Linked DNA regions of Homo sapiens: all the other regions are linked to region 2. Evidence: fine-mapped expression QTL. A gene starts in region 2. Each other region holds a variant in brackets. All regions are shown on one strand. Distances are between the middles of the regions.

Region 1 (8,110 bases), 190 kb before region 2:
GTAGTTAGGATCACTAGCACTATGATGTTCCCAGTGATGGCCAGGATGCTGATAAACCATATCAGGACTCTGAGGATGTTGTACCCCATGATATCTTCACATGGGTTGAATGCATCTGGCTTAGGGGAGCAGGTCACGTCAACCACTTCATTGCATAAGTCATAGTCAAACTCAGTGTACGTCATGTCAAATCCTCTGCTGTAGCTGGACTCATTGTCTTCTGCCAGAGAGGATCTCTGACCCCTAGCCTGAGTCATATAATCAACTTCTTGCCTTAAAATAGATTTGTTGCAAATTGGATGAAGCTCAGAGCTAGAAAAATACAAAAAGAAATAGAATCAACATCTCAGATCCAGTATAGCAAATACATCACTGTCTTTGTGCAGGGTAGAAATGATGAGTTTCTTCCTGAGATTTTTTTTTTTTCTTCTCACATCATACCTGCCCTTGAGGCTAACCTCAAGGGTTAATGCTGCTTACTGTAAATGAATATAACAACTTGTATATATATTACTAGAGTTGGATGGCTCACTGGGGAAACCATCTTGCCACAACCTGAATGTGGGGAGGAAGGCACCTGAGACTAAGCCTTGCTGTTAAGTGAAAATAATTTACAGAGCTGGCATCAACTCGACCCTTTTCCTTCTCCCATCTTGATCCAGCTATCTCTTAATACACCTGAGTAGGACATATTCCTATTCGTCTACACTCAAATCACTGGAAGATCCAGACTGTTCGCTGACTCAAATGAGAACTTATTTGCTTCTCTTATCTACATAAATTAGGGGATCAAAATCTGTAGTTAGTTCCCAGCCAGCCCCTATTCCCTGGCTCTTTGGTACTCAGGCTATTAGGAGGCCAGCTAATTTGCCGGAAATGTTACCAGGGTCTTTCCTGTTCTTTATTATCTCACTTTCTGGGGGCCACAATAGGCCTCAGCATGTGCTTGTCTGCAAGGTAAGCCTGGCTCTCTCATATTGAACAGTTTCCTAGTGAGTGCCCCAAAGAACAATGCAAGCTGCAAAAGGACCTAATTTATTCTAAGAATGGAACTCATCCTCTGGGCAGCCTAGCTCTCCTTGGGCTCACTTTACTGTCTTGGTTTTGCCTTTAAACCCAAATGTACAAGGGGCCTTGTCAACAGGATAGAGGTACTTACAGAGGGATTTGAATGAAATCCAGGTGATAAATATTCAATCCACGAGTATACCCATAAATATTCTACCCCAGAGTAGTATATCAATACTCTGGATGTAGAAACAAGAAAGGTAATACTTCTGTTTGGAAGCAAAGGCTTGTGGAATGGGAATAAGCCTTACGTTAGGACCTTTTTGGATGCAAAAAAAAAAAAAAAATTGTACATACACATGCATACCTTTCCCTCCTTCCCCAAGGGGCAAGTTCACAGCAATATTAAGTTGACTGTATTTTTTTTAAACCTTGACATAACCTCAGATATAAGTGGCGAAGTAAGTATCAAACCTTCTTAAGAAGGAAAAAGGTGGCTAGGGGAGTGGAGGAGGTAAAGACTCCATTTGATGCTAAAGGATGAGTCTTGCCAGGTGTTCCAACCTATTATACAGGGACTGAACCTTGCCCCATCAACCTGGATGAGAAGGGTCTGTTAGGAAGAGTGCTCTCCTCTCTTCTCTCACCCCTGGGAAGTGAATTGAATTGCCAGGAAGTCATTTTCTCTTGGCCTAAGGGATTCTTTTTGTTTGTTTGTTTTTTTAAGGCTAAATGATTAACATACACAGAATTGAAAGTGAATGGAAACGGAGCCCAGAAAATGTTCTGGTTTAGTCAATGGTCTTCCAAGAAAGGTGAGGCAAGCTCCATAATGGGTATAGAGGGGAGAAGAGGGGTATCCTGTGGTCCTTAGTCTAACTCTAGACTCTTAAACCCTGTTACTGAATTAGTTGCAGCCTGATTCCAGGAAGAGAAAGTAAGTAACCTGGTACTTGCTGACTGCAGTTTGGTTCATTGGACTGAGCTCTGACTTAACTCTCTAGAAACAGCCTTCACTTCCTATGGCTTATGGTCGCTGTCTGTGAAGGTTCTTATTGTTGATACTGCTGTCCATATATTTTAAATATTGTGCTTCTCTTTTTCTGAAACTGAAGTGACCCACTGACATGAAGTAAGGAGAAAAGTAAATAACTTATGTCTCTGAGATAAGAACAGAAACAAAAGTGGAAACCAAAGGACATCAAGTCTTGCCTCCGCAGTACTTTGGAAAATCCTAATTATCATAAGGAGTTGGGAATTCAGTTTAGGGTCAGTTGAAAAAGTGGCACTCTTGGACTCTGATCAGTCAGTGAACAGATGCTTGGGGGTGGCATAGCAGTGTCGCAGAGCCTAAGCTTTGGAGGCAGGCAGACCAGATTTGGATCTGTTTGGTCAGTGTAGGTCAAGTTATTTAGTATCTCTGAGCCTTAGTTTCTGTCTCTGTGAGAAAGGAATAATAATGATATTACCATTGTGGGAATTAAATGAAATAAAGATACAGAGTATTACAGTGCTTGGTAGTGAATACTTGGCAAATGTCAGCAGTATGAAGACAAATGATGGTGGTTACTTATGGAATTCTTGAGGTCTAGGCCCTGTGTGGGTACTTAGAAGCATATGCAACAGCATGTCAATTTAATATTGAATTGTGAAGAAATGGCCTTCACAACATTGAGTTGTGAAGAAACACAATTTTTATTGTATTTAACATTAAAAATTGAAGAATAAAATGAGAGCAAAGTAATGCAAAATGAATACAGAATTATGACAAGGAAATATCAGGTTCAATGACAAATGAAGACTGTAGTTGATACGAACTTTTGGGAAGAGCCCAGGAAGAGTCCAGGAGGACCACTGGCCAAAGTTTTAGTCACAGGGGCCTCATGTTTACACTCTGGGCATTATTTCCAAATGAGGATCAAAAGAAGAATTTCATCATACAAGTTAAAACTTGAATCCCGCTACCAAACCACATCTACTATGATATACAATGAAATGTCACTATTGAAGGAATAAATCTGAAATTATCTTCTGAATAACAATTATTTTGTGTTGTTTGTGTGTGAATTTGATAAATATGAAAATCAAATACCCATTGCTAAAAATAAAAAATGAAAACCACCTATCACAATTTTTGTTACTCCATTTTGGCATGTAGTGTAAGAACCATGTTCCTCTCCCTTGCTATACCCCAACAGGCCTGGATGGTAAGTTAGAGCAGCAACCTAGAGGGATGAGAGCCGAGTGGTCTGGAGGGATCAGAGAAGACCTCATGTCCTGTGACAATATAAGGTAGATGTGGAGATTCTGGTTGGGAGAGCCTTGAGGCTATGTCTAGAGGAGTCTGAGTAACACGATGAGACAACAAATTCTTGGGGTGTGTTGGAACTGGGCCAAATAGCACACTGCAAGCTGCTCTCACAGTGATCTTAACATTTTCTTCTTTTTTTAAAGACAGGGTCTCACTCTGCTGCCCAGGCTGAAGTACAGTGGCACAATTATAGCTCACTGCAGCCTCGACCTCCTGGGCTCAAGTAATCCTCCCACTTTAGCCTCCCGAGTAGGTGGGACTACAGGCATGCGCCACCACACATGGCTAATTTTGTTCATTTTTTTTGTAGAGACGAGGTCCCACCATGTTACCCAGGCTGGTCTCAAACTCCTGGGCTCAAGGAGTTATTCCGCCTTGGCCTCCCAAAGTGCTGGG[G/A]TTATGGGTGTCAGCCACCTTGCCTGGCCAATCTTAATGTTCTTTATTTCTCCTTTGGGGTATTCAGTCCCATGGACTTGGTGCAAAATTGGTATCTTTCTCACTCTGGATAGAATAATTCTTATCTGGAATATAAAAGAGGCAAGCCACTGCTTCAGCCCAGGACCTTAAGAATTCTGATTGTCAGGAAGAAATTTCCTGGCTCTTGAGCTGATCTATGAAGAGTGCCCATTCTGGATAATATCCCAATGATGCATGCAGATTCTGAAAAACAGCTATTTTTCTACAAATCCTCCAAAAGGGTCTGAGTAGGGACTTCCAGCTACTCTGAAAAACATTTTAGGGTGGGTACTGTTTTGTTGCTCTTTTTGTTTTGCTTTGGAGCAAGGAATATGTCCACATGGACTGGTCAATGTATGTTAAAGGTTGAATAATGGAGGAGACTGTGTTAAACAGAGAAATAATATCATAGGAAAGCTGTATTAGTTCTAGGCTAGTATATAAGAGTAATGAAAAGACATCATTTGATGAGTGCAACTACATGGTGTGGCTTATGTAGGTGAGCTCAGAGGAGCGTGAGAGCTTTGAGAACTCTGATACTCAGTAAGTTCTTACCTCCAATGGATCATTTAAATGTCTGGAACATGTGTACAATCTCCAAGGCGACTTTCTCTTTACTCTTTCCAGATCCTGTCTATGATTACCTCACTTTTTTAACCAGTTAGCTACTAAGACTTGTCTCTGTTTAGATGGCCCTCTTTAAGTCTGGGCTTCCTTGAACCCGGCTTTCTTTGAAAGCCAAAGTAATGAGATGTCTTAATCTTTATCCTCCCTGTGAGGTAGGAAGATCCCAAGGTGGATTAGAGAGGCTTAGAGTGATTGGGATGTGCGGCAGATATGTACATCAGTCTCTGGCATGGCATTTATGCATCTCCCCACCAAAGATGACACGGATGGGGCATTTATCAGGTGCACAGTTTGGGACTTGAAGGATTAAATCTATAATGGTACAAAGGAAAGAGGGAACAGATATTATGCACCAACTCTGAGGCACTATGCTTAGTATTTTTCATGTTTTCTCATTTAGTACTTGGTATATGTTCTGCCACATGGGTAGCCCTCTCCTGTGAGCCCACTTTCAAAGAAATGAAAGAGTTCAACTATTCCTCACTCTCCATGAACTGAATTTTTGACCCAGAATGTGCCAAAGGGCTTGAGACAGGGAACTCTCTGCAAGTAGATTCTCTTCATGTCACAGATAGGTAGAAATTGTGGACAAAGTTCTACATTGGGGAAATGCCTGAGCAGGGCTTAAAGGATGGACTCACATTTGCCGTCTCCAGTTTGCAAAGGCACAGCAATGGCTGGGATAGGTGAGGCTGGCTTCCATGAGGGCGACAAGCTTTTCCAGAGTAGGCAGCTTTTTTAAGTTGTAAGTCGACCTGGCCCTCAGCTTCTTAAGATTTTCTAAGCCATAGCTAGGCAGGGAATGGATCCTTGTTCTTGAAATATCTCTATAAAGAGAAAAGGTAAATATAACAGGATTACTATGGACCTAAAACTTTCTGCTCTTGGTTAGCAGGCAAAATAGCAGACACACTAGTGATATTCTTACATGGATGAGGAGAGAGACTCCGGTTCCTCCAACACACCTTGGCCAGATGGATATTTGGCTAATAGGACATTTGGTTCTGTAGGAGTCCTGGTCCTTCTGTTCCTGGTAGGAGGAGTTAGATAACAGGCCACTCTGATTCCTGGATATACTTACATCCTGGCTAATTTGGGGCCTAAGTGTTGCTGGTGAGTAGAATTAGCCACCTTCCCTTCTACAGTCTATTTGTACCTGCTAATTTGCATGGGACTAAGGGATTGAGACCATTTGTCTGTACCATAAAACTAGCTATAAAAATATTTCTGATGAGCTGGAGTAGAATCTGTGGCCAAATTTCAGAAAAAGGGACAAGAAGGAAATATACTACAAGAGGAAGAAGAGTCTGGCAGGCGGTAGGGGCAGTGTTAGCACAAAGTCCAAGTGGCAGTACAGAGTGGTGGTTACGAACTTGGCGTCTACAGCAGACCTGCCTGCATATGTACCTTGCCCCTCTCCCTATTAGATTTATGACCTTGGTCAAGTATGTCACTTCTCCATGTTTCAGTTTCCTCAGCTGTAAAATGGGAAGACAAAAATCCTATGTGTACCTCAGAGGGTTGTTGTTAAAATTAGATGAGTTAAAGTGCATAAAGAACTTCCTGACCAACAGACAACACTTAGTGTCTGGCAACTATTCTTAGTAAACATAACACTGAGTGTGAGAGAGAGAAAGTTGTTCTTGTTTGGTAGGAAAGTCTCTGCCTGTCCATTAGACCTCAGCACAAATGACCAGTTTAACCAGGTCCCTGCCCCTGATGGGCTGCAAGTTCCATCCTTTCTGGCAGCAGCACCAGTGATGTGGGCGCTTTTCTGGCAGCACCACTGGTAGTTGCAACCTTCAAAACCAAGACCGGCTGGTGAGAACAAGGAGATTTAAATGGCACCAGCTTGGACCTGGTGGGGCCAACAGCTTGGCCGTGAGTGGGTACTTCTGATGGGGATGGTAGCAAGTGATGACCAGGATGAGTTCATTTTAGCATCCTTGGGGACCCTTGGATATACTTGAGTAAGAAGAGTCTTTTAATGTTGGCATTCCCTGTAAATCAAAGCAGTAGGCACTCAGAGTAATGAAACTTGGGGGTGTGAATATATATTTGCTACCCCATATGTTCTCACAATCTGGTGAAAATTACATTTTCAAAGTCTTGCTTTCATTGTATAATTATCTTGCTCAAAAATTTATAATGGCTTCCTATTGTCCAGTGAAACCCATCCCTAACTACTGCCTTATTTGTCACTTCCATTTCCCAAGCAAATTTATACTAGTTGTTCATGCTTTTATTTCCTCATCTCACAATTCAGTTGAGTTTCTCTTCAGCCTCTCGGGAAATAGTACTCACTAAGGCCATGTCTTAGCTCTGATCTCCTTGATTTTGTAATTACATTTCACAGGTAGAATGCTCCTTCTTTTTGAGATACTCTCTTTCTTGGCGTCATATTCTCCTTGACATATTTTCCTCTGACATCTCCGTTGACTTCTTTCTGATGCTTTTGTTTTACTTCTCTTTTATCTGTTCTTTAAATATTAGTATATCTTTATACCTAGACCCCTTCTGACTATACCCAATCTTTTCAGGTGATCTCATTCATTCCCTTAGTTTCAGATACCAGGCATGTGCTGATGGCTTCCAAAATGTGTGTCCCCATTCAGATCCTACTCCTGAGCTCCAGGTCCACATAATCAGTTGTTCTTTGAACTCCACCATTTTGATGACTTGCATCAAAACTGAAGTTACCATCTTTCTTGTAAATATGTTCCTCCTTGTTTTTTCCATCTCAGCAAATGACTCTTCCAGTTTCCCCTGTTTTTCATAATGGAAACCTGGGTGCCATCCTTGACTCCCTCATGGGACATCAGTGTCTTGTTCTCTCAAGCCTAACTTTTAAATGTGTTTCAAATCAGCCTACTTCCCTCCTCTCCTGTGACTTTGGTCTAAGTCACCACAATCTCTGCCTAGACAAATGCAAAGGTCTTATAACTGCCCTCATGACCATCTATTGCAATCTTAGTACTGCAGATATAAAAAATGCCTATTAGATTGTGACTTCCTGCTTAAGACCCTTTAATGACTCCCCATTGCTCTTAGGATGAAGGACAAGTCACTGTATACAGTGTGTTGATCATTTGCCTCTTTTCTCCCACATCCATGTTATGCCCTTCTCTACGCTCTTCTCTGTGTTGCAGGAAGGATGATCCCTGCAGTTCCATTTCCCAGGTACCACCTTATCAATCAGCTTTCAATTGGGTTTAGCAAATGGCACTAGTGGGATACTGGAGAATAGGTAAAAGTGCAAATCTCATCCCTTCTCTGTCTCAGGCAGCAACTGAGTCTTCTCTGTGACTTCAGCTCTCGTTGAACAGATCCTTGGAGGATCCAGCTTCTACCAGTTGCCCCAGTTCCTGGACATCAGTAAGATGACTTCCTCATTTGTTCCTCAAGTCCTAGGGTTAGTAGTGGTTACTATTGCCAATCTCTGGACTACTGATCCCCTGTTTGATGTTCAGGAAGATTTACATTTTCAGAACAATTACCTTTGTTAGGTGTGTGTGCATTTGTATGTGTGTGTATTTTATACATAGTCCCCTCTTTGTTAGCTGTCAATTAGATCAAATCTCCTATATACTTACTGATTTTTTTGCTTCTTTGTTCTATCACTACTGAGAAAATTATAATGAAATCTCCAACAATGATTTTGGATTTGTATAGTTCTAGTTTTGTCAATTTTTGCCTTTTATATGTTTG
Region 2 (8,110 bases):
ACCTTTTCACATGGTTGAAAAAAATCAAAATAATGCTTTTTTGTGTGACATGACAATTATATGAAATTCAAATTTCTGTGTTCATAAATAAAGTTTTCTTGGAACATGTCCATGTTCATTAATTTACATGTTGTTTATGGCTGCTTTTCTGCTACTGTGATAGAAGTGAGTAGTTGCAAGAAGTGGTATAGCCCATAAAGCTGACTTCTGGTTTAAAATGTAAAGGATTACTCTTTTTTTTTTTTTTTTTTCAGAATAAGAAAGGTATAGAGTCAGATGATGTTCATTTCACATGGCATGCAGAGGAGATATAAAAGATTCAAATTTGGATCCCAGCTCTGCCATCCAGGAGCTGCAGGGATAATTGCCAGAGCTACTCAACTTTTTTGTGCTTTGGTTTGTCTTATTTGAAAAACAGAGCAATAATTCCAAACTTGCAGTTTTTGGTGAAGTTTTAATGAAGTAGTATGTACAAAACATACTGCATAAAGCAAATAGTAGGAGCCCCTTAGTAAATGAAATCTACTTGCCTGTTGATGGTGCTTCTGTTCTTTTAGCATTAATATCAGCATGTGCAGATCATAGGAAATTAGCAATCTTTCGTGATAGCTGGCAGATGTATCAAATGAAATGAAACTGCTGCAAGGTGAATGGAATGATAGGATAAAAATGTACATAGTAAAATGTAGGAATTGTTTTCCACCCGGTGAGCCTGAGTAACAATGAAGCTTTGACATGTTGATGGATTAAGCAATTGCAGTCAATGAAGTCCAATAATCCATCCACCTACACCTCATGTAATCATTAAAGTTAATACGCAAACTTGGAAGATTGTAAGGTGAATTAGAGATACTTAGTTGAACAGTCCATTTCATCCCTGTTCTGCCATTTACTTAGATAACCTTGATTCAGTCTTTTTAAGGAAGCAAAAATAAAGGTAATTGCTCTCTCATTCTAACAGTATGTGAGTTGTAATTCACTTGACATTTTATCTACTCTTCAGTGATTAACACACTGACCTGAAATAATTTTCCTTTTTTAAAATCTAATAGACAAAGCAACATTTCTCTTCTCACCTCAGTACACCTTTCCAAGAAGATTGCAAAGCCAAACTCTAAGATGGTCCAAGTCAAGCCCTACCAATGAGTGTGCAGAAGACAGAATCTTCTTAAGACTGGGTATTTGAGAGAGCTTCTAAAGCTCTTAACTATACTCATTCCTTAGGTGGAGGAAAATCCTAACACCTGGCAGGAACTTTCTTTCCTTTTCTTAGTTTTATGCAACTTTGTCCTCTAATACGTACACTGAAGTAAGGAATTGACCTAGAGCTAGCCTTTGTCAAGAATGTGAAATTTGTTTCTGGTGCTCTGTTCATCACACTCTCTCACACAGTCTCTTTCCATACTATCTCAACATCTCATGCTCTCTTTCCTTAGTTGCAAAATGCTCTTGGCCAGAGATGTGTTTTAGTCATTTATACCTTAGCATTACTTTTTTTCAAAAATTCATATCCTCTCATAGTAATTCATACAAATATACTCCCTGAAGCTTTAGGGTGTGGGGGTGGATTTTCTTTTCTTTCCTCTTTCTTTTCTTTCTCTTTTTCCCTTTTTCCCTCCATCTTTTCTCTTTTTTGGCCTATGTTTTCTCTGCAGAATGAAAAAAGAAAATCTCTCTTCTGATAAGGAGATTTCAGAAAGCAGACAGGCTAGTGTGAAATCACCCTAAAATTAAAACTTGTTTGGGTCTGTTTGTTTTATCAACTGGATGACACTGCTTGACCCACATGGAAACATTGGAAAAAGTGGAGTAGGTCCAGGAGAGGTGGAAATTAGGGTGTAGGGGTCATCTATATCTTTTAGTGTTCACAACAATTCAACCAAGCAGGTTGTACTAAAATGGCTTCAGAAATGAGGAACTTGAGGCTCAGAAGGGGTTAAGTAATCACTGAAAGTCACTTAGGACCAAATGACTTATAGGAGCTCAGGTACATTGGCCTTCTCCTGTGCTTATATTTACCTAATAAATCAGACTGTCTTTGTGCATGGGCACATTCTTCAGCATAATCAGGAGTAGCTGTCTAATCTGAGACAGTGTAGCCAAAACACAGAGCTGGCCAGTTATTTTCCCTGCCTCTGCAGCTGCCTCTGGATAAGGACTGAAGACTTGAGATGTTAAGGGGAAATGTGGCAAACAGAATCAATCAGGTCTGCAAGGCTGCAACTCATTGTCCCTGAGTGAAAATCTGAAATGCAACACCAACATGTTTCAGTGTCAATATGGCAATTGGTGAACTAAAGAGATGACCACCTTCTTCAATTAAATGCAAATCATCCACAGCTTTAAGTGACAAAGGTTGAAACAGGCTTCTGTTTAAAATCCTTGCAATAAAAACACAGAGAGTATCTAAAATCCCTGAGTCCCAACTTGCCAGTTCTCAGGGGAAGCAGTAACTGAACAATTACTTCAGGCTTCCCTCACTGTTGCTCTAATGGAGTCAGTCACAGTGGGTTGGGAAAACAAAACAAAACAAAACAAAACAGTAGACTGTGAGTCAAAAGGCCCGATTTCTACTTTTGGCTCCATCTCAACTCATCACGAGAGTTTGGAAAATCCTCTTTACTCTTCAGACACCAGATTCCTAATTTGCAAAAGAAAGAGAGAGTAGGATGGTGTCTAAATTCTTGGCCAACTCTAGGAGTCTACTTCCTGTTAAAATAGTTAAGTAAATTTCTAACTTATTAATCACATTTTTTTCCAGTTGTGTAAAAGATTATCCTGTATTTCTCCCTCTCTCTGTGTCTTTCCTATCTTTCTTTCTTTCTTCACACCTTTTCTCTTCTCTACCACCTCCTTTTTACACCCAAAAGCAGAATCTCAGTTCAGGAATTATTTGCTGCTGCCTTCAAAACGACAAAGACTATGGCCTTTTAGATTCAGTGTCCTCGGGAGACATACCTTGTGTATTCTGCTTAGATCAAAGCTGCCTTTCTGCCTCCAATTCTGGGTCTCCTAAGTTTCTACTTTGCCTTCATTTTCCTTTTCTGGTTCCACTAAAGAGAGTATGAAACCCAAGAGCAAATGCATTGAAAAGACAAAACTTTTCCCTTTGCCTTTGGATTCCGGTTCTCTGACACTGCCGTTCTCTGACAAATGCTGATACAAACTCTCATCTAAGATTCTTGGAAAGCCACAGGCAGGAGGGTTGGGCTGGGGAGTTAGTTGTTTTATTCAGGACTTCGGTCAAGGGGCAGAAATATTTCAGTCTAACAGATATCAGCCTAATGTAAAAATAATAATAGTACGCAATGCACAAATGCCAGCCATGCAGTTGTTCCCCCTCCCTCTGATACTCACAGTTCAATGGCATTCCTCGGGAGGTCAGAAGGAATCTCTGTCACCTTGCTCTCTTGGCAGAGAAAAACCCTGTTAGAGCAGTGACAGATCCGATGATGACATCCTGAGCCCAAGCTCAGGAATGCCAGCAAAGAGACCAGGAGCAGGGCCATAATTATGCATCCATCCACCTGATTTCTTCCTGCATTTGCAGAGAAAAACCTCCACAGATCTCAGAAGCTCCACACAGTGCCCTTATGAGAAGAGATCTGACTTGAGAACTGGTAGGGTCATGTGACCCACCAAGGGATGCTTTTTTTTTTTTTTTTTGTTACTTCCAGGCAAGATAAGCTACTCTGTTTTCCTTCAAGATTGGGTTTCTTACACCCTGACCTAAGGCACACAGCAAATAGAACCATTAGGCATGTCTGGAATAGTTTGCATTATTTCATTGCAAAAGTCTCCTTGCTGTTCACCATTCTCTTCTCAACAGAGTGACATGATTGACTTTCTCCAAAAAAGACACAACCCACAATATGACACATCACTAAGAGGGGTACTAATAAGTGAAGGGCTGGGACCTTCAGTCTTCAGCATCAATTTCTTCAACCAGCCCACCTGAGAGAAAACCAGCCCTTCTGGGTTGCATTCAATGATCCTCTTTTTTTGCTGTAATTATGCCAAAAATGGCACTATTCAGAAACAGGCAGGTGGGTTAGCAAACCTTAGGCAGATTTCCGTAGGTGGGAGGTACTTCTGATAGGGTTATCTGTAGCGATAATTGACTGAACTGAGTGATCTAAGAAATGTGCTATGTTTCCAGTGGGGATTTAGTAAATGCCAGCACATCCACCCCCTCGTGCATATCCTGCCTGCCTTCTCGCATTTCCAGGCTCTGAAGATTGCCCTTGCCTTTTGGCAATTGGCATAAATGAATTTATTTAATCTACGCTTTTAACTTACTTTTAAAAGTTCCCTGAGGTGACAGCCCAGCACTTTTGTTGGCATTCCCCTCCTCGATGGTGAGGGATCTGAGGAACGTTTGGCAACACTTTTAGAAAAGTGGCTTTCTACTTTCAATTGTAGAATCTATGAAGATTAAAAGGCAGAATATTCTCTAAGATCCTGCCCACAACTTATTACCTGCTAAAATTAGTTTCAATACTATCTTTAGATAATTAGTTGCATAAAATTGAGCTTCATGAAAATGTTAAAAATACCTACTTATCCCACCCCTCCTTCCCTCTCCCCTGCCTTACCAAGGAAAACCATGTAAAGAATGATTAAATTATTAAGAAAAAAACAGAAGCAAGTGATTTGGGGGGCAAAGTTGATCCCTAGATTTTTTCTGGGAGCAACTGGTTTATTCTAATTCTGGAATTGGCAGACAAAGGCAGTATCTATATGGACTTCATATTTTTAACAAATTGGCTAACATGAATGGTTAAATTAGTTTGTTCAACAACTGATCCAAGGAATTATAGTCTTTCAGATGTAGAAGGAAGTTAATTCAATCAACCAACTAATGCTTAAGTTTAAGTATTCATATTAATTTAAACGGATTTTCTCATCTGTACTTGAATAACTCCAGTGACAAGAAACTCACTACCAATTAAACCTTTTACCCAATTCCTCTGCCCCATAAGTCCCCTTCTAGCTTTTGGAGAGCTCTGTAATTAGTCTTAGTATAATAAGCAGAAATCTTTTTAAAATTGAGATTTTTATTTTAAATGCTATGTCGTATTCACAACTTATAGGTAACATAAATGTAATTTATTAAGCATAATAATGCAACAAACAATTGCGGGCTGGAGAATAAAGGACATAGCCAGTCCTGTTGCATCTACTTAGTTGATTTTCCTTTATTACCTTCTTGTGTTCCTATGCCCAAGGTGACCATTAATCTGAATTTTGTGGTTATTATTTCATTTGTTTTGTAAAATTAATCTTGTCACAAAATGTATCTCCAAGGAATATATTATTTAATTTCTTGCGTGTTTTTACATTTTTACAAAGTCTATCAGTCTTTTAGTAGTATTTTGCTGCTTACTATTTTACACTAACTAGACATTTTAAAGAAATAACCATGTTGTTATGTGTACCTGCAGTTTATTAATTTTGTACCTGTTAGGTATACCTGTAGTTTATTAATATTATACTACTGTATGATATTCCATTGCATAAATATACCATAATTTATGTTTTCATTCTCCTGTAATTTTTAAAATCCTGAGGTTGTGAAAATATTATTTTATATCTTCTCTAAAATTTTTTAGTTTTGCTCTGTACATTTTGGCCTTTGATCTATTTGGCATTGAGATTTATGGGTGTGAGTAAAGGACTCAATTTGTTTTTTATCTGATGGCATAATGGTTTTATCCACATGGATAAACATTTGTCCCAAAACCATTTATTGAATGGTCCCTCTTTTCTTTTCTCACTTGTAAAACTACCTTTCTCATATCTCAAGTAACTATTTTGCATGGGTTTGTGTCTAAGCTTTTTTATATTCCACTATTCTTTTTTCTACATTACACCAATGTTATACTGTCTTAATTACTACAACTTTAAAGTAAGCCTTGATATACAGTAAGAAAACACTTCTATCTTATTTCCTATAGGAGTATCTTGCCTATTTTGGACCTATGAATAAATTTTAGAATCAGATTATTACACTCCTTGAAAACACCCTGGTATAATTTTGTTTGGAATTATATTGATTATATAGATTAATTTGGGCAGAAATTATCACCTTTAAGATAACAAGTCTTCTTATCCATGAATATGGTATAGCACCATGTTATTTAAGCCCTTCTTTGATGTCTTTAAATAAAGCTTTATACTTTCTTCCATATATGTCCTAATATCTTAAATGTGTTTCCTGATGACATCCTGTTTTATGCTGTTATAAATGAAATCAATATTTAAAGTCACATTTTATGTTTGTTGTCATACTGTAAAAATGCAGTTAATTTTGGAATATTTATCTTATATCTAAATTACCTTATTACATTTTCTTTTTTTTTTTTTTTTTTTTTGAGACAGACTCTTGCTCTGTCACCCAGGCTGGAGTGCAGTGGCTCGATATTGGCTCACTGCAAGCTCTGCCTCCTAGGTTCATGCCATTCTCCTGCCTCAGCCTCCTGAGTAGCTGGAACTACAGGTGCCCGCCACCACGCCTGGCTAATTTTTTGTATTTTTTAGTAGAGGCGGGGCTTCACCGTGTTAGCCAGGATGGTCTCGATCTCCTGACCTCATGATCCACCTGCCTCGGCCTCCCAAAGTGCTGGGATTACAGGCGTGAGCCACCATGCCCAGCCACTTATTACATTTTCTATGCAAACAATTATCCATATCTAAATAATTCTGTGTATGTGTGTGTGTATGTGTAGAGAGTTTCTTTCTTTTCAATTCCTTCCTCCCTTCCTCCTTTTCTTCCCTGACTCCAACTTCCTTTTCTTCTCTCTCTCCTTCTTCCTCTCTTTCTACTCTTTCTTTACAATAATAATTTTTTTTTTGTTTTTGACATGGAGTTTCATTCTTGTCACCCAGAGTGGAGTACACTGATGTGACCTCGGCTCACTGCAACCTCTGCCTCATGGGTTCAAGTGATTCTCCTGCCTCAGTGTCCTGAGTAGCTGGGATTACAGGCACCCACCACCATGCCCAGCTAATGTTTGTATTTTTAGTAGAGACAGGTTTTACCATGTTGGCCAGGCTGGTCTCGAACTCCTGACCTCAGGTGATCTGCCCACCTTGGCCTCCCAAAGTTCTGGGATTATGGGTGTGAGCCACCACCCCTGGGCTACAATAATGATTATATGCTATTAAACTACACATTTCCTAATACTTTATTTAGAAATTTTGCATCTATGTTCGTAAGTTATTTGTAACTTAATTATGAGTAATTTTTAGTGCATAATTAATTCCTAAGTTTTCTTTCTCATGTTGTCCTTGTATAGTTTGGTGGCATTGTTACGTTTGCCTTATAGTCTGAATTGGGGTATAATCCCCCTCATTTTATTCTTAGGGAAAAAAAAACTGTTTCAGATTAAAGTAATCTATTCCTTTAAAGTATGCCTGTATTTGCCTAAAAAACCATTTGAGCCTCGGTTCATATTTGTGTGTATATATGTGTGTCTGTGTGCATGTTTGTGTGTGTCAGTGTATGTATGAAAATTTAAACATATTGATTCAACTTCTTTAATTGTTATTAGATGATTCAGGCTTTCTATTTCTTCTTAAATTTATTAAATTATATTTTTTCTAGGAATTTTTTATTTTAGTTAAGTTTTAAAATTTACTGTCACAAAGATTTTTAGTATTCTCTTTTTAAATCTATTCTAAACAATTTCTAGTCTTGTTTATTTCTGTCTAGTTTCTTTTCATTAATCAACCTTTCCAAAATTCTCTTTATTTTTCTTGTTCTTTCAAAGAACGAACTTTTGCCTTTACCCTTTGCTGATCCAATTCTATCTTTATGTTTTGTTTCCATGATTTTTGCGCTTATTTTTTCCTTTTTTGTTGTTCCTTTCTAAAACGTTTTATTTATATGTCAGATTATTAGTTTTCAGCCTTTCTTCCTTTCTAATAATATACTAAAGCTGTAAATTTTTCTGTGATTTCTGCCTTGGCCCTCTTCTACAAGTATTGATAGGTAGATCTTTCATTACAATTTATTTTTAAATATTTCTCAATTTCCCATTACAATTTCTTCTTTGGCACATAGATAATTGAGAGGTGTGGTTTTGAAACTTACAAACTTCAGAAATAT
Region 3 (8,110 bases), 380 kb before region 2:
CACACACACACACACACACATACACGGATAGTCACTACATTCTGATAACTAACTAACTTCCAACTGTAATATTGGTGTGGTTCATGAAGGCCCCTTTGCCAAATATCTCTCTACCTCCTTCACAGGCCTGAGATTCTTTTTCTGGGGAGCAATGTTTTCTTTGTTTGAGGAGAGGCATCATGATCTTCTCACTACATGTAAATGATTATGTCTTTCTAAATGGAGAGTGTTAATATCTCTGAAGGACAAAGGGTGCAGGAAGGAGTGGCTGGGTACACTTGAAATGTAGCCCCTTCTTACTCATGCCAAAGTTGAATCTAGATTCTCAATTCAAATGATCTTCCATCCCTCACTTCTGAATGATCTCCCTTCCTTTTATTGGTGCAAGGAATTACGGGGCTGGGCATGGTCTTCTGTTTACCCTCCTACCCTCCATCAGTGACTTTAAATCATTCCAATGAAGTAAGTATCTCCTATTTTTAAGCACTAGAAGAGGATGTTCTTCAATATCCCTCAATCATACATTCTTTTTTCTGACAAAACTCACCCTAGAAATACTTCTTTAAGCCAAACTTCCTAAATTCCTTACTTGCAGTGTTACAGCTTGTTTCTTGTTGGATTGCCGTCCGAGATTAAGAATTCTTAATCACATCCCTTCAGAACTTTTATCTGGAAGATCTAACATGGTGAGGGATTATCTGACCCTCCTTTACTGGTGAGGCTCAGAAGTCTAACAGTGTGCTCAGACACCTAGTAACTCAGAGGCTGATGGATACTCCTTGTAGGTTTTAGTTTCCACATCTGAAAAATGAGGAGAGCAATATCTACCCCCTCCTCCTCACATGGACTTTGTAAAAACCCTGTAAGATAATGTGACTAAAAGTACTCTGGGAAATATAAACAAATTCAAGTTATTATTTAAATACTTCTCTCTTTTCCTTTGAGTTTTGCTTTGCTGCAGTTTCATCCTCCTTTTCTACAGCACTGGCTTTGCTGTAGAAGAGGAATGGCATGGCATGCTGTCAGAAGCCACACAGCCCTCCAGCACCCTCCCTCTGCATCTAGCTTGCAGCTCTGTTCCATCCTCAGCATTAATTTTTAGGTTTGAATGGATATCCTGGCTTACATGAACTCAGGTTACTCTCTTCCTTAACCTCCTGGTAACCTGCTAAATCCCTGCAGACACATTGTTCTCAATTGGGGGCATTTCTCTCTCCTTTTCTACTGACAAGGGGATATTTGGCAGTATCTGGAGTCATCTTTGGTCATCACTGCTGGTGGGTAGTGCTACTGGCATGTGGTGGGTAGAGTCAGGGATGCTGCCAAACATCCTAAGATGCATAGGACAGCTCGCTTCCCACAACAAAGAATTATCTGGTCTAAAATGTCAGTAGTGCTGTGGTTGAGAAGTTCTGCTATAGATAAAATTCAATGAAATACATATTCTTCTCCCTTCCCCTTCCTTCCTTCCTTCCTTCCTTCCTTCCTTCCTTCCTTCCTTCCTTCCTTCCTTCCTTCCCTCCTTCCTTCCTTCCTTCTTTCCCTCTTCCTTCTTTCTTCTTCCTTTCCTTTCTTTTCCTTTCCATTCCTTTTTACTTTCTTTCAACAGCTATATCAGATATAAAGGTATAATTGGTATACAATGACCTGTACATACTTAAAGTGTACAGTTTGATGATTTTTGACATCTCTACATGTAAAACCATCACCATAATCAAGAAAATGAATCTATCCATCACTCCCAAAAGATTCCTCCTGCCCTTTTGTAATTCTGCCCTCCTTGGGCCACCCATCTCAGCTTCCCAGCCCCAATCAACCACTGATTTGCTTTCTCTCACTTGAGATTAGTTTGCATAGTCTAGAATTTTATATAATTTGAATCATACATTATGCACTTTTTTTCTGGCTTCTTTCACTCAGCATAATTATTTTAAGATTTATCTATGTCATTGCTGAACTACTTATTCTTGAGGAAAGATAAGCTGATGGTTAAGAACAAAGGGTTATGACTCCTGGGTTTTTGGGTCATTAATAGACACTCTTTTGATGATTTTACTTCTTGGATGGATGCCTCACTTAGCTGTTCCTTCCCCTGCCCCCACAATCAATTTTCCTTATCACAGTCTTTAATACCTGGCCAGTGAACTACCTCAGTGGTCTTCTAATAGGAGACTTCTGTCTCTAATTTCTACTCCCCTTAACTTATAAAACTTCATTCCCTTTTTTTTCTCTCAAACAGAATATTAAAGAGCTAATCTGTGGGATACCAGTTTGGGAAATGGTGCCCTGACATAGCTATTTTGTTTTTAAAACTCTGCATTTCAGACTTAATCCATGTGCAGTATACACACACACACAGAGAAATGAATCTTGAGACATCATCTCTAATCAGCACAGCTTACCTGGTTTTTGCCTACTTTGGTGCTAAGAATCTTTCCTGGAATTATATCTAGTTAAGGTATCCATATTTAATAATAGGAAGAATTCTTTAACCAGGCACTTTGAAGACCATAAAAAATAGTTAACGATAATTAAACCCACACATTATTATGAGAAGTATGTAGATTTTACTACATTGTTAGCCTAGACATACTTCTATACAGCAATGACATATGGTTTTGAAGTGGAATTCTTGAATAAATCTCAAGTTGCTCCTTTCAAGATAACTGAGAAAATCTTGATTCCTAAGAAAACAGTCCTCTTTATCATCTGTTCCACAGTTTTCTTTCCCATTTATCTTCGTTATATAGGATATGGCTCATTCTTTTCTCTTCCCACACAGTCTTCTGTGGGGTTGGTCATTTCTTTATTTTAATGCTTATATCACTTTTCTTCAGTCAGTTATTGGTATTTGTATCTGCAAATGCTCCAAGTTCATTTTAAGCATCAAATATAATTAATATTGCTGAGGATGTTTTGCTCTTCTCCTGGCAACTTGTTACCTGGAATGCTCTCTTCTGTTTGTGATAGGCATTGGTTGTCTTGCCTACCCAGTATCCTCTTCATTTGGTAATAGTACTGTGTTCTTTTTTGGTGTGGGAGGACGCTATGTCCCCTCTTTAATGTGTTTAGTTAACGTAGCAAGATTTCTGAGAGGGGGCGAATGGTGAACCTAGGGAGGCCTAACCTTAGGTCCCTGTGTTCTCAATGGTATATATATCTTTTTTATCAGCAGGGAGATACCAGGGTTCGTCATGGGCAGCAATGACTA[C/T]GATGGACAAGAAGATAGAGGCCCTAATCCTAATTTTCTGAGCACCATGGAAGCCCCCTGGATTCTAGGGAGACCTTGAGGAGAAAGAAGACTCCTGTAAATGCCTGACATTGAAATTCCTGCAAGTCTAGGAGCATGTGAACTCAAAATGGAAATTAATTTGATTTAATAAAAATAAAGAAGAAGAATTGTTTTGGCATATCCCAGTTTGTAGACTGAGATTCATAATGGTTGTAGGCACTTAAAAATTATCATCCGTAGATTAATGAGTTTATTGAGTGCCATCTCTACTCCGAACATTATTAGCAAGACTTTTTGTGGGTAAAGCAAAGACATATGGCCCTGCCTCAGTCTTCTGAGAACACGTAGCCTGCTTGGAGACAGAATATTCAAATAGGTAGGAGGAGGTTAATTTCTTACAAGGGGTAATCCATCAGGGTCTGATAGCAACTTAAGAGCTACCACCTGCGGGCGCCTATAATCCCAGCTACTCGGGAGGCTGAGGCAGGAGAATGGCATGAACTCGGAAGGCGGAGGTTGCAGTGAGCCAAGATCGTGCCACTGCACTTCAGCCTGAGGGACAAAGCGAGACTCCATCTCCAAAAAAAAAAAAAAAAAAAAAAAAAGGAAAGAAAAAAAGAAAAACAAACAAACGACAAAAGCGAGCTACTACCTGTACCTAATTGGTAAATGAATGGCCTGGTCAATGAGCAGTGAGTTCAGCTGCTATCATATTAAAGGGAATTGAGAGAAAAAAGAAAAACAGTAAGAATTTAATGTCTTTTGTTTTACTAAGAGTGAGTTTGCAGGGCTGAATTTTTTTAAATTTTTTTATTTTTTATTTTTGAGATGGAGTCTCGTTCTGTCGCCCAGGCTGGAGTGCAGTGGCACGATCTCGGCTCACTGCAAGCTCCGCCTCCCGGGTTCACGCCATTCTCCTGCCTCAGCCTCCCGAGTAGTTGGGACTACAGGCGCCCGCCACCACGCCCGGATAATTTTTTTTGTATTTTTAGTAGAGACGGGGTTTCACCGTGTTAGCCAGGATGGTCTCAATCTCCTGACCTCGTGATCCGCCTGCCTCGGCCTCCCAAAGTGCTGGGATTACAGGCTGAGTCACCGGCTGATTGTTTTAAGGAAAGGAGCAGTTTATTTCTGCAGCTCACCACTTCCCAGGGAGCCCATGCTTTGTGAGCCTGTGGTCTCAAGAGTTCCCCATCCAGAGTGGGGAGTCAGGCCACTGGAACAGCCTGCAGAAATCAAGCAGGTGGGTAACGTGCTCAAAGATGTTTTGTGCTTGCCTTTTCCTCGTCTTCCCAAATATGCAGCACTTGTCCAGGTCAATGTCAGAGGAGCTTATGTTCCTGTTAAGCAATAAGACCCAGTAGGCAGAGAATTGCTGTGGAATTAGGGGAATTCAGAGTGACTTTGTATGTCAGGGACATGAGCCTCTGCTTCCATGCCAGTTTCCAGCACAAGGTTGTTTGAAAGCCTTGCTTAAAAAAAAATCTCGAGGTATGCCCAACTTGGAGCTCTCGGATCTGATGTGGGCAAACTGAAGAGATCAGATCAAGTCCCTTAGTTCCTTAGAGATCTAGGCTGTGAAACTGGGTGACTAGGGAAGGGATTTGAGTCATGATAGTGTGGAGTTAGTCTTAGGGCGTTCTTGGACAAGACATGAGGTCTTTTTGGAGCTTGGTTTTACTGTCTTAGTTTTATGGTAAAATGGCTACAAGAATATGGGCAGAGCTTTAATCAAAACCAAACACAAACATCTAAATATCCTACATTAATACATTAAGGAGTGGTCATTTGCTTTACAATGATAGGATTGCCCCCTTTATAAAAATTCACAGTAATATCCATTTATAGGGCAGTTGAACTTTCATTTGAAAATGGAATTTGGTTTGCAGAATGTGATTGTGTTTTCAGCTTTTAAGGAAAATATCAGTTGTAAAAAGGGAGTTCTGCATGTCTTCTTGCTCTGTTCCCCTTTCATCCCTCCATGCACTCCTCCTTCTCATGAAAACTGTGAAGATAATGTCTACATGGTACTTAACAGATGTTTAAGATCTGAGCTAAAAATCCAAATTGGTGATAAGCTCATCATCAAAGATGTACTGGGGCTCATTCTCCAGTGGCTTCTGGATTGGGAGGGGAGAGACCGGGGATCTGGTCCAAACTTTGCCTCAAAATAGCTGGGTCCCTTTGGGTAAATCTTAGAATTGTAGAACCTTTGATTGGAATAAAATTAGGGATCATCTTATCCAACCTTCTTTTGATGAAAGTATTTCATCTACAGCATCCCCAGCTGAAGAGTATCTAGTCTCTTCACTTTCTGGGCCTAAGTGTGTTCATCCAATGAGAGGAACAGGTCTCCATTTGAATCAGGTCTGAAAATGAGGCTAGGAGAGTCAAGAAACTGGAGGCCAGGACTCTGAAGACTAAATGTAATGATATCAGAGTTTGTCAAGGGGCCAAGCCCTAGGTATAGGGTCTGAGGAAGACTCTCTGGGGAATAAAACACTACACGTACCTTCCCTCTTCACAGGTCCATCCTCCTCTGGTCAATAGATGGGGAAGAGTTCTGAGACTTTTAGACACTTAACAGTTTGACCTGAAGCTGCTTACAGATCTACCTCAGCATTTCTAAAGAAAGACAAAGTCAGGATGTCAAGTGAGCTCTCTTCATATTTGAGCTAAACATTATTCCAAGGTTGTGCAGCCTCAGCTGGCCTCTTGCCCTTTGCTTCACATCCTACCTCCTCCTTCCACCCTCCCACCCCCACTTCCAGCTTTTTTACAGCATGCAAACTGCAAACCTCAAGGGCATGCAGTTGAGTCTGGCTGAAATCTGCTGAGTATTTGCAGGGTTTATCTGAGGAAGAACCTTTGGGTCATTGTCATGGCAATTTTGATAATCCTGACGACATACAGATGTGACTGTTCAGGGCAATCTGAGAATGCCTCCCACTTTCTAGCCTCAGCATTGCCTGGGGCAAATGGAGCTTGCTTACTTGCTTACTCTTTTTTTTTTTTTGTATTCTTGTGCAAATAAAATAAAAAAAGAGTTCACAAAATTTCAGTTATAAAAATCCTGTGCCAAAAAAGTTTTATCAAAAACTTCATCTGGAGTTAGAAAAAGATTCTAAGAGGGTTGGATGAGTCACCAACAGGACTGGACCAATAGTCCATTTCTGCATATTGCTTATTTGTTCTCCGTTAACATGTCTACTCACCCTTTCCAATACCACCAACCCTCCCTACTCCATTCGGATCCAGAAAATGAACTCAAGGCTAGGGATCTTTTTCAGTCATCTCTTGATGCCTCCAGTACCCAGCACCGTGCCTAGGAATTCAGTAATGTTTGATGGATAAATGATGAGGTGGGCATAAGATAGCAGAGAGATTTGCAAGGTGACTCCTGATAAACAGAGATTGAATGAAGGTAGGGATTGGTGGTGTGAAGAGACAGGGGCTTCTAGGCTTTGAGTGTTAGCCAAAGCTCTTGAGCATGGAATTGATGCCATAAAGATCAATTCCAATAAAAATATACCTGATGTCAAAATGTGTGGAGAACTAGACTTGGAGAGAGCTTAGAGGCAGGGAGACCAGCAAAGAGTATCAACCTGTTTTCTTGAAAAAGTACAGAATGGAGAAGAAAGTGCTAGGGGAGCCTAAAAGAGACGTGTTATTGCAGGTCCATTTATCTGCCCAGGAGCACAGCCAGGAAAGATTCAAATGCCTAAAGAGTTGGGCACCAACTTGTACATGAATGTTCACGGGAGCATTATTTATAATAGCTAAAAGTAGAAACAACCCAAATGTCTATCAGATGACAAATGGATGAACAGTATGTAGTATATTCATGTAATGGAACATCATTTTTCAATAAAAAGGAATGAAGTACTGATACATGCTCCAGAATAGATGAACCTTTAAAACATTATGCTAAACGAGAGAAGCTAGTTGCAAAAGGACATATGTTGAATTTTTATATTTTTGTGAAATGTTCAGAATAGGCAAATCCATAGAGACAAAAAGTAGGTTAGTAGTTGTCAGGGGCTGGGGGAGGGAGAAATGGGTAGTGATTGCCTATGTGTGTGGGGTTTCTTTTTAGGGTGATGAAAATGTTCTAAAATTACATATTGGTAATGGTCGTAGAACTCTGTGAATATACTAAAACCCACCAAATTATACATTTTAAAAGGGTGAATTGTATGATGTGTGAATTAGGTCTCAATAAAGCTGTTATTAAAAAAGAGTAGGGCTGGGCTGGGGCCATGACCACCGTCTTCACGGACATCAAGGAGTCCAGCACCATGCTGTTGAAGATATCCTGAAATGGCTGCCTGATTAGCAACGGCTGTACAAGGGTGACCAGCTCCTGGTGATGGCAAGACGATGCATGAGTTTGGCTTCCCCAGCCACAGGCCACAGCTGCAGTGGGGCTGGATTTCTGGGTCGGGTCAGAGACACCTATGAGGCCCTGCACATCGAGCCCTTCTTCAGCCCACCCATGCTGCCTGATGTGATGAATCCCCAGGACTCAGGAAGCAGCACCAATAAATAAGCCTTCCAGTGAGGAAGGCTTATTTGACCTACCCCAGAGAGGCCTCAATAAAAGATAATTGGGTATCTAAAAAAATAAGTAAATAAATAAAAGAGCCATCCATCTGACCTAAGAGTTTAAGTTTCTTGGGCTTTGGAGAAGAGTCAGCAGGGATCACAAAGAATAAGAATGAGCCATCAGACCCTTGAAGCAGGTTGTTCATGTTAGTAAGCAGTGTGTGTGTGTGTGTGTGTGTGTGTGCAAACTAATTCACAAGTCCACAAGTGGCTGTCTCGTTTTCCTTTCCATTTATTCCAAATGTGAGCTAGTCCAAACCCAGCTTGGGCAGG
Region 4 (8,110 bases), 560 kb before region 2:
TTAGGACACCATTTCTCAAAATATGTGCTGCAGAACATGTGTCCCATATAATTATCCAACAAAAGAATAAGTTGGGGAATGCCGTATACTAAATTAATGTTAAATAAAGGCTCCCAAGAAGTCCTGCAATAAGGAAACTTGTTAAACTTAGTTAACCCAGTTTTTCCCAACTCATTGGCTATTGTGTCTTGTCTTTGTGGGTATGTGTATGTAAAACACTTATCCCTATCTTGTGGAATAGTGTTCTGTGGAGCATGCTTTAGGAAATGCTGAGTTACTCTATTATGGTAGTTTTCAGTTTTTTTTTTTTTAAGACGGCATCTCACTCTGTCACCCAGGCTGGAGTGCAGTGGCATTATCTTGGCTCACTGCAACCTCCGCCTCCTGGGTCCAAGCGATTCTCCTGCCTCAGCCTCTCAAGTAACTGGGATTACAGCCACCCACCACCACACCCAGCTATTATTATTATTATTATTATTATTATTATTATTATTCTATTTTTAGTAGAGATGGGGTTTTGCCATGTTGGCCAGGCTGGTCTCAAACTCCCGACCTTAGGTAATCTGACCCTCTCGGCCTCCCCAAGTGCTGGGATTACAGGCGTAAGCCACCATGCCTAGCCTATTGGTAGCTTAAAGTTTTATTTTAAATTTTTAAATAGAGATGGGATCTCACTATGTTGGTCAGGCTGGTCTCAAATTCCTGGTCTCAAGTGATCCTCCTGCCTCGGCCTCCCAAAGTGCTGGGATTACAAGCGTGAGCCACCGTATCCAGCCTGGTATTATGGTAGTTTTAAATGTTTGCCATCAGCTCTTCTGCATTCTTAGGCAGATGAACTAAAGGAGGACATACACTTACATCTGTTTCTAAACTTGTTTTCCCTTCTTATCCTCAAGTTTAGTAGATATATGGATGTCTCCTGCCACATATTTCCCACAGTATCTTGAAATGGTGATGCATCTTGCTGATTTTGTTTAAAAGGTTTTCTTTATTTTGAGACAGAGTCTTGCTCTGTTGCCCAGGTTGGAGTGCAGTGGCATGGTCTCGGCTCACTGCAACCTCCGCTTCCTAGGTTCAAGTAATTCTCCTGCCTCAGCCTCCCGAGTAGCTGGGATTACAGGTGCCTGCCACCACGCCTGGCTAATTTTTTGTGTTTATAGTAGAGATGGGGTTTCACCATGTTGGCCAGGCTGGTCTCGAACTCCTGACCTTGTGATCTGTCTGCCTCGGCCTCCCAAAGTGCTGGGATTAGAGGTGTGAGCCACCACACCTGGCCTAAAAGTATTTTTAACTAGAAAATATTTCAAAAATCACAAAAATTAAATAGTGCATTACAGACAGGTGGTTCAGTTTAGAATGTATGTTTCCCTTCTGTCTTTCACATGAGCAACATTTTATAATTTCTAATAGCATTTATTTTATTTTTAAAAATTTAAATTTTGCCTGTTACACAGCCCTCAGGAGGTCCTGAGAACATGTGCCTCTCAAATAGCATTTTAAAATCTATGTGTTGCTTGACTTGCAGCAAAGATTAATGCCATTCTGATTTTCTACTAATTTATTTCTATTAAAAATAGTGATATTATACATGACATCGCTAATATCAACTGGGTTTCCTATACTATAGTAATGTGAGTCAGGATTTTTCTTTATTTTGGACTATCTGTTTAGAAGTCTATGTTTGGGTCCAGTTATCTTTTTCTACTGATAAAAGTAATGATAGGTAGTGCTGTCCTGTGCAGCCCCTTCAGACCTGAAGGATGTATTTCCCCAGCAGGTGGGAATTGCCGCCGCTGAAGATAGCTGCCTTTCCTGAGGTCATGCCTCCTTCCTGGAATCTATGCAGGGGTGTATAGGCCCCTTTGCATCAACTTGGGCTAACGCTGTAGGTCAGCCCAGCTTCAGCTCTCCAGGGCATGGACAGAAGCCTTCATTCTGACTACATTGCATCCCAGCTTCTCTCTCTGCCCATTTAGCTTCATTTCCTGCCTCACTCCCCCATGAATGTTGAACTCAACGGCACTCTCCAGTAAACTTTCTGCACACAGATCTCCATCTCAGAGTTTATTTCTTGGGGAACCTGACCTATAACACTAGGTATATATATATTATGTGTGACTGAAATGTGGGTCAAGTGGCATGGAGACTGTGTTTATACTTATTTTCCTATTCACAGGGCATGCCAGGTTCATGCAATTTTAGTGGACAATTAAAAATTACTTTACAAAGTATCTCTTGCTTTAGTAGCATTTACTAGTTGATGTGCACCTGGTGGCAGTTTCAAAATGTTTTCTTCCATTTAGTAATTATCTGTTGCCAGATACTGCTCCACATGCAGGGACACAGCAGTGTGAACAGAGAGACAAAGTCCCTGTCCTCATGGAGCATAGTTTCTAGTGGGGGTAAACGAAAAATAGTTAGTAGATAAATAAATAAATAAATATGATTTCAACTAATAACAAATTCCAAGAAGGTAATAAAATAGGGTAACGGGATAGAGAGTGACTGGAGGGCTTTATCAGGGGTAGTCCTGGAGGACCTCCAGGAGGATGTGACATTTGAGCTGAGACAAAAATGATGAAGAGCAGATGGTTTACTATTAGGTTGCTGCAAAAGTAATCACGGTTTTTGCCATTAGTTTTGCAGCAACCTAATAGTTTGTAAGATGGCTTGTTTCAATTAGATAATTTTGGGTGCATTATAAATCTTAAGGGGGCCAATGGCTAGATACATGATACAGCCATATATTCAGGTAGAGGGATAATTGATCATATGTCTAGTCAGATCTGTAAATTTTTTTTCAGTATACATATTCTGTATACATTTTATAAAAACTACGTTTGACTTAGAAGACAGTTTTGGTGCTCTTGAAGACTTGACCCTGGCGGGGAGGATTTGAGGGGCTCTGTTGTTCAAAAGGAGAGCAGAGCGCCTCACTTGGAAGCTACTGTAGGAGGGTAGAGGGCTGTGTCTGTGTCCAAAGGGTGAGGTTTGTGCAGTCTGTGCCACATGTATAAAATAGGACTGAAGAGGTGTGAGTGCTGTGTTGCATTTGTTAATGCTGCCTGTGTTTTGCTTTTGCATAACAGGTTGAAATAGAAAA[G/A]AAGTGGATTAAAATCGATGGAGAAGACCCAGATAAAATTGGTGACTGCATAACTCAGTAGGAGTAGCAAGAGTTTATGATGACAGCCCACTTGTCAAATATGTAATTCACCGAAACCACACCAAGTCCTGCTACTGTAGAGTGGAAATGACTTCTGAATAGCGGTTTTAGGACAGGTCTGATGGCTGTGTTTAGAGAAGTTTAGACCTAAAACCGAACAATCTGTATTTTTTGCTTTTCATGTGTTTTTGTCCTAGGGGTTCGATCTAAAATGTTTCTATAATTCGTGTGATGTTTTGCTTCCTATTGAAACTCAAAGGCACTGTTACTCGTTGTGTGACCCCGCAGCCAGTATGATTTTTGATTACTCAGTGGCTGACTGTTTTGCTCTCTGGATTACTGAGGTGCCGTCTTCATTTCTTCCCATCTCTTCTTGCTGCTTAGTGTCTGTACTAGAGGGTAAGGGAATCAAAGGAGACATAAACCAAAATAGTTAATTTTCCCTCTTTCTTGCCTCTGAAATGTGGCTAGGTGTAGAATGATGTTGAAACCACAGGCTAAAATGTAGATCTGGAAGTATCTGTGCTTTTGAATTACTTATTTACCTGTCCTCTTACCGTTGGTAAATAATAATTGGCTATATTTGGTACCTGTCTCTCTCCTACTGTATTGTCATTTTCAAAATGTGTTTGTTTTCTGGCGCGTGCTGCAAAGAAGCTATTTCTGTTGTCCTACATATTTTAGTATAAATCACTAAGACATATTTCCTTTCACTTGGCAGGATTCCTTTCAAAATGGAATCTGAGTATTAGACACTAGTTAACATATTTGTGTATATTAAATATGAATTTTTAAAATTTATAAATACTATTTTCCAAAAGTACAGACTCTAAGGACATATTTTGATAAAGTATTATTTGTAATGAACACAAGCCTCTCTTGAGTAGAAGTCTAAATCACATTATGATTATTTTATACTAGTTCTGCTATCATGCTGTTTTATGCTAATTCTGCTTATTTTAGAGTATTTTTCATTAAAAGGTGAGCAAAGTGAAAGATACTTGGTATTTTACCCAGATTTCTAAGTGGCAACATTTTTATTCTTCAGAGTCAGGTAAATGACTATAATAGTTTGGTTTCTAATGAAAAGTCAATAGCATTAGCAGTTATAATTCTGTTTATAATTTCCTTTCAGCATTTACAGTGAAAAGTGAGAATTTTAAAATTTATGAAATCTATATTCCAGGTATTGTTTTTAGTCTGAAAAACAAACTCCCCCATGTGGTATTAATATACCTTCAATTTATGTTGAGTCTTAAACATAATTAGGAGATATTTTTCTCTATTTGCTAGATTTGTTTTGAGTCAAAACTGATTTAGTGTTCTTCCAAACAACATTTATGTGTTGGCCTACAGAGTTTATTTCATGTGTTTTTTTTAATATTTAATATTATATTACATTCATTGAAATCTGTTCAAAAACAGATTAAGACAAACATTTATGATGGTCTGTATCAATCAGCAGATTTTATTGCTTTTCATTATTTTACTGTAAAGGCAAAGAATGCAATAGGTGATGGTTGGTTGAAAGGAATTGTTATTGCTGTTTTTATTTTTTACTTTTTTTGAGACAGAGTCTCACTCTGTTGCCCAGCCTGGAGTGCAGTGTGTCATCTTGGCTCACTGCAACCTCCGCCTCCTGGGTTCAAGGGATTCTCCTGCCTCAGCCTCCAACTAGCTGGGATTACAGGCACAAGCCACCATGCCTGGCTAAAATTCTTTTGTATTTTTACTACAGACGGAGTTTCCCCATGTTGGCCGGGCTAGTCTCGAACTCCTGACCTCAGGTGATCCACCAGCCTCGGCCTCCCAAAGTTCTGGGATTAAATGCGTGAGCCACCATGCCCGGCCGCTATTGCTCTTTTTAACTTCATTTGATGCCTTGCTTATAATATCATATGCTTGAGGCTCACTGTTGATGTAGAGTAGGGCAAATCTGTGTGTGTATGTCATTAAAAAAATTCTACCATCTTTCTTTATCATCTGGTGTGGGCGCACTCTACAGTGACTTCAGTCTGCTCAGAACGAATGTGGAGGCCGGCCGAAACTGATGCTGCCCACAGTCCCAGTGAAGTTAGGTGGGTTAATTACTGCCATTCCTTTCTAAGTGTGTTTTATGGCATCCTGCCCACAAAGAACTCACAGTCTGATTAGGATGAACTTAATGACTATTTACACCTCAAAATATATTCAGCAAAGGGTTCACTTAGTTGCCCCTCATGCTTCACAGGTTGACTAGTATCTGTGGGTACCTCCCTGCCCAGGTTATTCACTCACAAGCCACCGGGCCTTCAGGACATCTCAAGATTCAGTCTTGACAATATAATAGCAAAAGCTGGACTAAAGCCCAAATGGATTGTCTGTGGCAATGCAGAAGCTGATAGCATTAACAGCAGGGTGTTACAGCATAATTGTTAATTCGCACATCTATTAGGATCCTTAAATATTCATTACTTAATGTTAAATTAACATTCTGTGTAGGGAGGGGAGGCTTATTCAATTCTTCTGACCTCAGAACTGGCAGAAGGTCAGATGTGACTACAGAACTCTAGGTGAAAAATCAGGTAGGGTTCAAATTAAGTAGAACTGCCCTTGCCGGAATAGTGATCTTCAAAAAACCCTTGCTTTTAGGGGAGGGAAGCGGGGAAGGAAAGGAATGAGGGAGGAAATATTCCTTTCTAGCATTCATTTTGCTTAGATCACTCCATTGTGAGTTTGACCATTTTGGAGTCAAATGAGCAGACTTCCAAGGAGTTGACCAGTTTGTGACTAGTCTGGTCACCTTTCCAGTTACAGGATCATATTAACTGTGTAAATGAATTCATGGGTAGATGATTTGTGCAGATCTGAATTTAAGAACATTTCCTTTTTCTGTGGGAATCACAAGAGTTTATCCACTAAAAAAAGATATGTAAAAAAGATACTTTCCAGCACATAAATAAAGGCTGGAATTTTACAACCTGATGTATATATTAGACAGTTCTAGGATGTTAGTTCCCTTCATTCCAGAGCTATGCTTGTGATACAGCCCCTTTTCTTATAAAGTCAGTTAGAAGGACTTCCTTAACAATGACTATTATAATGTCTTACTTAAAATACAGTTTTGTATTCTGTCAATGCAAATATAAGACAGGTTGAGCCTTAATCATGTAACAAAATATTTTGTAGATTACATATTGATTTTTCAAAAATTAAAAATGTATTTCAAACTATTCTTACTGTGCTGTGAATTTATATCTTCTTCTGCAAGACCTGGGGCTATTTTTTTTTCTTAAGGTATGAAATCAATTTCAATAACCTTAAACAATTGACCCTCTGTCAGGCATATGTCAGGCTCCACTCTTAAGGAGTCAGTGACCATGACCTCTTTGCATATCCTGGAAAAATGACATCATCAAAGTATAGTTGATAATGTTATAAAGGATGATTTTAAAAATAGGGTATAATCATGACTCACAAAGATATGAGGCTGGGTGTGGTGGCTCACGCCTGTAATCCCAGCTCTTTGGGAGGCTGAAGCGGGTGGATCATGAGGTCAGAAGATCAAGACCATACTGGCTAACACGGTGAAACCCCGTCTCTACTAAAAATACAAAAAAAAAAAAAAAAAAAAAAAAAAAATTAGTTGGGCGTGGTGGCGGGCGCCTATAGTCCCAGCTACTGGGGAGGCTGAGGCAGGAGAATGGTGTGAACCCGGGAGGCGGAGCTTGCAGTGAGCAGAGATTGCGCCACTGCACTCCAGTCTGGGCAACAGAGTGAGACTCCATCTCAAAAAAAAAAAAAAAAAAAAAAAAAGAAATATATGAAATGAATACATGCATAAGATTACCACTATTCAAAGCCTTTCACAATTTTTCCTTGAAAACAGGAAAAACTTTGTCCACAGAATTCCATGGAATTTTCAACCTTTGGCAACTTGTAGAGTAGTCCTGTAGAATTAATGTGCACCTAAAAGCCACATTTTTAAAGTTTAGAAAACCAGTTTTACAAAATTGCACAGAATATATATCAGGTAAGATATACGTGTGGGTGGTAGGGAGTTGGGGGAGAGTGGAGGAGAGTTGTGCGGGAGTGGAGGGAGGCTGTAGGAGATATGAAGGGAATCAGTGCTTATAAAGGACGAACCTAACAACCTCTCCACCCTCCTTTTTATAAGAAATCTGCCTTGTGTTGAAATTAAATTTTTATTGAGCTACTAAAGTTAATATTTCAAAAAGGCATCAGTACTTCATAGAAGACAGAGCATGAAGCACCATTTTAGCCACTGCTAGCACTCACAAGGCTTGGCCCTAGTTCTTCAGGAACAGCAAAAGGATTGACTGGCAAAAACTGACCATATTTGTAACAACAGTCCTCAAAATCCCATCAATCAATTCTTCCCTGTTTTGTCTCAACTCTGGCTAGACTGTCCCACCGCTTTTGTGTAGACACAGGGTAGATTTTGATGTTGTCTCTCCTAGACCCTCCCCATCCTCTGCAACTACTGTATTCCAAGGAACTTATACCCTTAGCCAGGGCCCTAAAACACAGGGTTATGTGTATTCTGTTGAATCATATGTAATCGCCAATATTTACCTTTCTTGATGGGAATTTCACGGGCTCAATCTAATTATCCACATATTTCCCTAGGTCATATGATACAAGCACTTTTTGTTATCCTGCTTAGAAATGGCAATGAAATATGAATTTGACTAATTTTTAAAGCAAGACAGAGTTGCTAGTCAAGAAGCAAATAGTTGAATTACAAAAATCCATAGATACAAGCTACAGATAATATTGTGCCTTTAAAATCATCTGTAAGGAATGTAATCATTTTCCTCTGTAAGGAAAAGGAAAACTGATTAGATTAATTGCCCCAAGTTTTAAAATATTTCAGTTCATTTCCGTGAGACTTCCTGGGGAAGAAAGGCACAGCATCATTAGACTCTGGGTTTTGCTGCTTACCCT

Direction of the effects. Positions count from the first base shown, and alleles are read on the strand shown. Sizes are in standard deviations (SD) of each study's normalised expression. Not every link is listed here.
As copies of A replace G in region 1, the expression in testis of the gene that starts at base 3,607 in region 2 goes up (small effect, 0.31 SD a copy in GTEx).
As copies of A replace G in region 4, the expression in gastroesophageal junction of the gene that starts at base 3,607 in region 2 goes up (large effect, 0.82 SD a copy in GTEx).

The links. PIP is the estimated chance that this variant, and not a neighbour inherited with it, causes the effect.
Region 1: its variant is fine-mapped to the expression of FSHR in testis (GTEx, PIP above 0.99).
Region 3: its variant is fine-mapped to the expression of FSHR in esophagus muscle (GTEx, PIP above 0.99). The same link has a PIP of 0.9 or more in gastroesophageal junction, sigmoid colon, stomach and transverse colon.
Region 4: its variant is fine-mapped to the expression of FSHR in gastroesophageal junction (GTEx, PIP above 0.99). The same link has a PIP of 0.9 or more in coronary artery, esophagus muscle, ileum, sigmoid colon, stomach and transverse colon.

What each region holds. Positions count from the first base shown.
Region 1 is chr2:48,963,655-48,971,764 of GRCh38, forward strand. It overlaps FSHR (follicle stimulating hormone receptor), which reads right to left. Exons shown (of 10, transcript NM_000145.4): 9 at 5,044-5,229; 10 at 1-312. Among named protein-coding and RNA genes, the nearest start is that of MIR548BA, 92 kb to the right of the region's middle. The variant G/A (reference allele first, on the strand shown) is at 3,716.
Region 2 is chr2:49,150,909-49,159,018 of GRCh38, forward strand. It overlaps FSHR (follicle stimulating hormone receptor), which reads right to left and starts at 3,607. Exons shown (of 10, transcript NM_000145.4): 1 at 3,358-3,607. The coding sequence starts at 3,509.
Region 3 is chr2:48,773,108-48,781,217 of GRCh38, forward strand. STON1-GTF2A1L (STON1-GTF2A1L readthrough) reads left to right here. Exons shown (of 11, transcript NM_001198593.2): 11 at 3,173-3,412. The coding sequence ends at 3,208. LOC105374594 (a long non-coding RNA gene) reads left to right here and starts at 4,258. Exons shown (of 4, transcript XR_001739460.2): 1 at 4,258-4,475. It also overlaps the pseudogene ELOBP3. The variant C/T (reference allele first, on the strand shown) is at 3,212.
Region 4 is chr2:48,592,139-48,600,248 of GRCh38, forward strand. All of the region lies in intron 3 of STON1-GTF2A1L (STON1-GTF2A1L readthrough), which reads left to right. STON1 (stonin 1) reads left to right here. Exons shown (of 4, transcript NM_006873.4): 4 at 3,090-6,375. The coding sequence ends at 3,164. Among named protein-coding and RNA genes, the nearest start is that of GTF2A1L, 22 kb to the right of the region's middle. The variant G/A (reference allele first, on the strand shown) is at 3,104.